Linked DNA regions of Homo sapiens. The protein of the gene in region 1 interacts with the protein of each later gene in a biochemical or structural test. Each region holds a gene or a part of one and is shown on either strand. Other genes may lie near its edges.

Region 1 (3,653 bases):
CATAAAGAAAACCCAAAAGAACAACCGAATTATTAGAAACAACTGAAGAGCAGGCCCAGGCTAAAATGCCATAGACTACCAGTGTTCTTACCAGAATTTCATTAGTTTTTGTTAAAAACAAAACAAAACAAAACAAATAAACAAAACCCTTCACCTTTTGTTGTGTGCTTCTGGTTAACTTCCAGGTTCTTCAGTGGTTTTTGTCCAGTTTTGTTCAATTTTATCATTGCTTCACCATTTCAAGAAGTCCTGCTTCTATCTCATTCTTTGCACCAGCTAATTGATTATTCATTCTAGGAATTTATTAGTCATTTACTATCTAACAATGTATATGTTTCAAAGACAAGAAATGTATCATAAGAATGAAGTCCGTTTTGCAACAGCATATGTATCTTAGAGGTAGAGAGCACTTCTCACTCATCTTTGTAACCCCAGGTACAAAGCCTGGAGTAATGCTTAATACATAGTAGGGCTTTTACTATTTCCATAATGTCTATTTAATGGGTCTCCCCTCTACCTACTACTTTGTAAGATGTCTTACAAACACAGAAAGCAGTAAAGTAGCTGTCGTTGTTTCTAGCAGAAATGACTGGCTTGACAAAGGAGTTAAAAAAAACTTGAACAGAAGATGATTGACATTATCTTCTAATGAATGAGGAATGGAAAGGCAGTAATGGACCTGATGATTGCCAAGACTCTCATGACCCAGGGAAGGGAAGGGGAGGGGAGGGAAAAGGACAACTCACATCATCATCTTCAACTATGGTGACAAGGTATCCTCAGAGATGTGCTCTCAGTCCTTGAGTTGCCAACCCATTTGATCACTCAATGAAAGCTAAAGGCCCTGTTTTCCAAACCCACACTAGGAATGCTTCTAAATTTTCCCCATTAAAGAATGATGGTTGCTTCCTCTCTTCCTATTTGAATACCCTTTATTTCTTTCTCTTGCCTGATTGCCCTGGCCAGAACTTCCAATATTATGTTGAATAAGAGTGGTGAGAGCGGGCATCCTTGTGCCAGTTTTCAAGGGGAATGCGTCCAGCTTTTGCCTTTTCAGTATGATATTGGCTGTGGGTTTGTCATAAATGGCTTTTATTATTTCGAGGTATGTTCCTTCAACACCTAGTTTATTTAGAGTTTTTAACATGAAGGGATGTTGAATTTTATCGAAGGCCTTTTCTGTGTCTATTGAGATAGTCATGTGGTTTTTGTTTTTAGTTCTGTTTATGTGATGAATTACGTTTTGCAGGAACAGAAAACCAAACACCCCATGTTCCCACTTATAAGTGGGAGCTGAACAATGGGAACACATGGACACAGGGTGGAGAACAACACTGGGGCCTGTTGGGAAAGGGTAGTGGGGTGGAGAGCATTAGGGAAAAGAGCTAGTGCATGCTGGGTTTAATACCCAGGTGATGGGTTGACAGGTGCAGCAAACTACCATGGCACACATTTACCTATGTAATAAACCTGCACATCCTGCACATGTACCCCAGAACTTAAAAGAAATACAATGAAAAAAGAATGATGGTTGCTGTATCCTTTATCAAGGTAAAGTGAGGTTCCCTTCTATTCCTAGATTAATGAAATTTTTGTTTTTAACCTGAGAGGTTAAAACCTGAGAGGTTAAAAATTTTTGTTTTTAACCTGAGAGGTGTTAAATGTTAATAGATACTTTTTCTGTGTCTACTGACATTGCAGAACTTTTATCTTTTATTCTGCTAATGTAATAAGCTACATTTATGAACTTTGTAAAGTTTGGCTATCATTACGTTCCTGTACATTCACCACTAACTCTACTAGCAGATGATGTTTATTTTATACATTGCTGGTCTGTTTGGTGATATTTTATTTAGGATTTGAGCATCTACGTATACAAACAATATTGTCCTATAATTGTCTTTGCTTGTATTGTTCTATCTGTTTTTGGTATCAAGATTATATTATCATCACAAAATAAATTTAGTAGCTTTCCTTCTTGGTTTCTGCTAGGCTGTGAGTGCCAAAAATCTCAAAATAATAACTCCCAACAAGACTGAACTGTATTTCTCTCTCATATAAATGTCTAGGGATGTGGTCTAGAGTGATATAGCACTCCATAATGTTGGACACCTAGACTCTTTCTACCTGGTGGTTCTGACATGTTTGTCTTTGCCTCATAGTCCTTGATAGTGGCATTTGGTTTCCAGGAGGCAAGATAGAGGAAGGGATGAAGAAGAGAGCAAAGGATACTTGCAAGCACTTTCTTAAAGAAGGTTCCCAGAAGCCATCCCACAACACTGCCACTTACATCCCATTCTCTAGGATTTAGTCATGGGGACGCACTTAGTAGAAATGAAGGCTGAAAAATGTCATCTTGAATCTGGGTAGTCATGTGTCTAGCTAAAATAGAGTTCTATTTTTAAAGAAAAAGAGGAGTATAAATAACGAGGGCCTATAGGAATGTCTGCCTTGCCTCTTTTTCTCTTCTTCTTAATGGTTAAGGAACAGGCTGAAGGTCACACAATGGCTTGACTGGAGAGCTGAGATTCGCGCTCAGGTCAGTCTTCAAAGTCTGTACTTTTCACTACACCAAACTCTGCTTTATACCAGTCAAGGCTTAGAAGAATGTCTCCATCTGGGTCTGCTTACTGCATCCTTCAGCAACCATGAGCTAAAGAGAAATCCTATCACCACAGGAGTGGGCTGAGGTAGCCACCGGAAAGATCCATTTTTCCAAAAAGCAGTCAAGTATCTCCAAGCCTCCTCAACAGTCTTATTAAAGATGCCTGTCCAATTCTGGCCAAGGAAGCTCATCTGAATTCCAAGACCCTAATTAAGGTGTCTCTTTTACTTCTTATTTGTTGTAGCAAAACAAGGAAAGAATTATTGGCAGCACAGTGTAGGGAATGGAGCACTGAGGTCTAAGTTAGGGCCCTTGGGGTCTAGTCTCAGCTTTTATACTGACCATCTGTTTGGCCTGAGAAGTCACCTTTGCATCCTAAAACCTCAGTGTCATCAACTTCAAATTGGAAGCTTGGATACAAGGATCTTTAAAGATCTATCTAGCTCTAAATTTAGTGCTACATTTGTAAGAAAATTGAGAACATCAGTTAAGTATAATGCCATATTAATACTTTGCATTTATATATTAGTAGTATGATTCAGTTTATCATACGCTTTTCATCCTTGATCTCATTTGATCTCAATAACAACTTTGTGAAATACATAGGGAAGTTACTAATATATAATTTATAGTTAAATATAGGTGGTATTTTTGTGGTCATTTCCACAACAGCACAGAAAATAATAGAGTAGATCCTAAGATTTGTTGAGTATCCATTGTGTGCTACGTTTGAGGTAATATTTCTATGGAAAAAAATTAGATTTAACTTATAACTGTGTCAACTATTCCAAGAACATAAGTGACTGAATTAATGAGAATTCCCTGTGTTATTCATCTATCAATGTTTAAGCCCATGATGTACATAGCCTGGGAGAGGACAGTTAGGGCTATGGAGAACTGTACAGGAGATAGCTCCCTGCTGCAGTGGAGAGACATGTGCCATTAGAGAATTCAATTCTATGCATTAATGGGGGTGAAAGATAAACTGGATGATCCAACAGGGGTAAACAGGTGGCAGTATAGCTGATCAATTTAGACTCCAGTCAGT
Region 2 (3,753 bases), on another chromosome or scaffold:
TTAATTCAGTTTAATCATATCAATTCTTAAACAAAAAACTTCCTCCAAGAGACAATAGTTCACAGTAACTGCAAAGCTTACTCACAATTTTTAAAAATATCGCTCATGCTTAGCATTCAAAGAAGATATTATAGAATAACTGTAAAAACTTTTACCAGGAACATCAGCTTCTGACTTGAAAAATTACAAATACTGAAGCATTTTGGTATCAGACACAGTAGTTTTGACATTGTCTGTTCATTTGATGAGTTTCTGGAAGTTTGGAAAATTGTACCTCTATAATTGGATAATGCGCTTATTCTAAACTAAACATTTTCAAATGTAGAAAACAAACTAGCAAGCTACACATACAAAGAAAAGCCCTCTAAGACAAGCTTTCCACATGTTGAATGCCAGCATGTGCACCGTGAATCCTGGAAGACTAGAATTGATACATACGCTTGGCTTGAAGTCTTACACCCCAGGCTCAACGATGGAGTTTGCATTCACCTACACATTAATGACAAACTCTGGGTTAGTATAAGAGAAGCCAGCAAATTCATTTTGGTCCAAGTTCATGATGAAGAGTTTATCAGTGGGGGTCAGTTCCACAGGCTGTCTGGTGAACTCTTTGTCGAAGTTGGAGGTGTCTCTCTTGTCTCTCTGCCAAATGGAAAGTAAACACATTAACACAGCGTAAGAAGAAAGACACAGGACCAAGATACGCCAGTCATTGGGTGGCTGATACCATCTCATGAGCAGAGTCAGAAAGAGCCCTGTGCTGAAAATTTTTAGCAGCTGCACTCCACGCACTGGCTTTCATTTCACATTGTATGTTGGCTTGGGGATAGAAATGTGGTGGAAATTTTCTAAGAAAAGAAGTAAGTCATTGAATGTCAGTTAAGAATTGCCATAAAGTGGTGTGTGTGTGTGTGTGTGTGTGTGTGTGTGTGTGTGTGTGTGTGTGTTGCTGTATTTTCTTTGGCTTTAGGATGAATTGAATTGGAAGCTACTTATTACCATGCTTAATGTTATAGAAATAATCATTAGGTAGAGCGTCCTGGAGAAAACCATTCAGTAGCAGCCCAGGTGGCTAGAAGACCTCTTTCTCTGAAAAGGTGAACTGCTGCCCATCTACTCTGCCCCCAAGAAGGCAGAATGGCCATGTGGAGAAATCAGATCACTGCTTAATGAAAGGAATTGACCACCGTCAGCTCGAAAATCCACCCACAGTCTAGAATTGGGTGTTTATCAGGCAGAAGTTCTCTCCAAAGACATTTTTAGCATGTGTCAACAAACTATAAGAGAGAAAACCCAAAGCTTAAAGGAGGGTGTGTAAGGGGAGCCTTAAAACAAAACAAAACAAAACAAAACAAAAGAAACTCAAAGCAACTCGATTCTCCTAGTAAGTCTGGCATTTCTTTTTTTGTTCAGTAGGGAGGTGGAGAAGAAATTAACCCCCATTTACTAGCAATTGCTTGGGGCAAGTCTCACCAGGGAACATCAGAATGTGGGCTAATAAAGGAATCTGTATGATGCTCCGACCTCTTCAGGGTCCTTGCAAGCCTCTTGTCTTTCCTCATCATCACCACACCCACCTGGGGCAGGTGGAGCTGGAGTCCTCACCTCCTATATATGACATATGAGAGAACCGAGGCACAAGCAGGCAGGGTGGCTTGCCCAAGATTTCAGTGGGTTCCTGATTTTTACCTGACCACATCGCTGCTATGTAGGCCTCATCACAGTCTCTCGGACTGGAGGGACAACCCCATGGCTGTTTTATTACAAGACAACCAGGGAAGAAGGCCTTGTATTCCCTAGTGCCCTGCACATTCCCGGGCTGCAGCCAAAGTTGCCTCAGATTATAAAGGCCAGGGGGTCGGTAAGGATTCACTGACTCATTAGCGTTTGAGCCATCACCACCCAGGCTTTAGGTTTAGCCCCCTAATGGGCACTAGCTGTTAAGGATCTCTCATTGCTGGGTTCACTCTCCTTTGCAAAAGACCTTTTACAAGACTTGCTTCTTTGTGGCTGCTCCCCTGAGATAGGTAAAATGTCTCTATGGAGTTCCCTCCTTACTCTTGCCAAGTCTATGTGAGGGTGTGGGAGTGAGGTGGGCACACTGAACTCAGGAGCACACGTGGGTATGTGTGGCTAGAGTGGGGCAGGCTAAGATGCTGATGGAGCTGTTTCCTGGGTAGGGTCCATCTCTACCATGTCCCACCTGCCCTTTTTGTCTTGTCCTGCTTGCTGTTAGCCTGTGGGGTGCTATAGGAGTTTCCATCCCCCAGGCGCTCGGCATGTTACTTCCGGTGTTCACAACAAAGCTCGAATGCCTCCTCTTTAATATTGTCTGTGCATCTCTCTCCCAATCCCCACAAGTCACACTTTAGCATCCTTTAATTATCTTGATTGCACTTATTGCTTTCAGAAATTGTCTTGTTTATTTATTATTTCTCTCCAAGAAACAATATTCTTGGAGAATTTCTTGGAGAGAAACAATAAACAGGGTCCTCATCTGCTTCTTCACTAGTGTATTTCCAGTGCTAAGAATAGTGCCTGGCACACAGTAGGTTGTTTGTAATTATTTGTGGAATGAAGGAAGACTTGGGATATGCCTCTATCCTTTTTGCAACTTATAATTGTCCCCGAGCCAGAAACTTTACTCTGAGGCAAAACAATGGAATTGATTCCCATTGATCCTAAAGGTCTCCCAAATGGGCCACTGTCCCTTTTGAACCCCTGTATGAACTGAACTGTGTTAGGGCCCCTAAAGGTCTGAGAACTCCAGGACAGTGTGTGAGCTAAAAGGCAGGTATATTTGGAGCTAGAAGACACAAAGCTGCCTTTTTTTTAGGTCTCCCCTGGTCTCATCAACCCTATTTCGCTTTCCCTGCCTGTGGGCCTCTTATCAAAGATTCCCTTCTGACCAGCCCCACCTTGGAAAGCCCTGCCCCGTTTGTTGTGCTGGTGATGGCTAATGCTTCAGATAACCACATGGTCCAGACAGGACTTGCTTTTATGGACTTTGTCCTGTGGGCAGATCCCCAGAGAAAATACTCCTGGATTTTACCGTAGAAGTTGGGAGAGAATAAGCTTCTCTGTTGAGATCATTTCTTTGAGGTTGATAGCATCTGAAGCCATGTGAAAACAGTAGCACTCATCCAAGGAGGGTTATTAATTCTACTGACCTCCCATTAATCCCCCAAGAAGGTCCTTGTTGCTATGGCCCTGTCCTCTCTTCAAAAAGCTCTGTTTCTCAGTTTCTTCTGCACTGGAAATGTGGATAGAAAAGGAAGTGGTAGAAATTCTGACTTTCCATGGAAAGTTTCTCTAAAACAGACTTTGGCTTGAGTATCTATTTCTGCAAACTATTAAACTTTTGAAAAATAATGGCAAGAATTTGGAAAATGTTGAGTGCAGTATTTATAACACTATATTCCTTCCTTCCTTCCTTCTTTTCCTTCCTTCTTTCCTTCCTTCCTTTCTCTTTCTTTCTTTCCTTCTTTCTTTTTCTTCTTTCTTTCCTTTCTTTCTCTTTCCATTCATCCTACATTGTTTTCTAAAGTTGTCTCAGATCATTTGTCAATGGCCTAGTGTTTCTCCATGGTTTTTATCTTCCTGAGAGCATGTCCAAGCAAAATGGGATCATGATCCAACCACCAGATAAGGGCCTGTTGGTGGGCCTGGCTCAGAGATGTCTGCTGCCTTGCTACAGAGCAGAAAGCACCCTGCACTTTCTGGACAGGACACCCAGGTTTTTATCCCAGCTGA

What was found. Proteins that work in one complex are often made in the same cells at the same time.
Region 2: of the proteins of CASR (region 1) and PRKCB, one has a biochemical effect on the other in vitro, tested with the Homo sapiens proteins (one study listed by BioGRID).

What each region holds. Positions count from the first base shown.
Region 1 is NC_000003.12:122,277,661-122,281,313, reverse strand, and holds part of CASR (extracellular calcium-sensing receptor isoform 2 precursor), read right to left. Parts: intron 1-3,653. UniProt on the Homo sapiens protein: G-protein-coupled receptor that senses changes in the extracellular concentration of calcium ions and plays a key role in maintaining calcium homeostasis.
Region 2 is NC_000016.10:24,216,850-24,220,602, reverse strand, and holds part of PRKCB (protein kinase C beta type), read right to left. Parts: 3' UTR 643-3,753; coding exon of another isoform or gene 490-642; 3' UTR 1-489. UniProt on the Homo sapiens protein: Calcium-activated, phospholipid- and diacylglycerol (DAG)-dependent serine/threonine-protein kinase involved in various cellular processes such as regulation of the B-cell receptor (BCR) signalosome, oxidative stress-induced apoptosis, androgen receptor-dependent transcription regulation, insulin signaling and endothelial cells proliferation.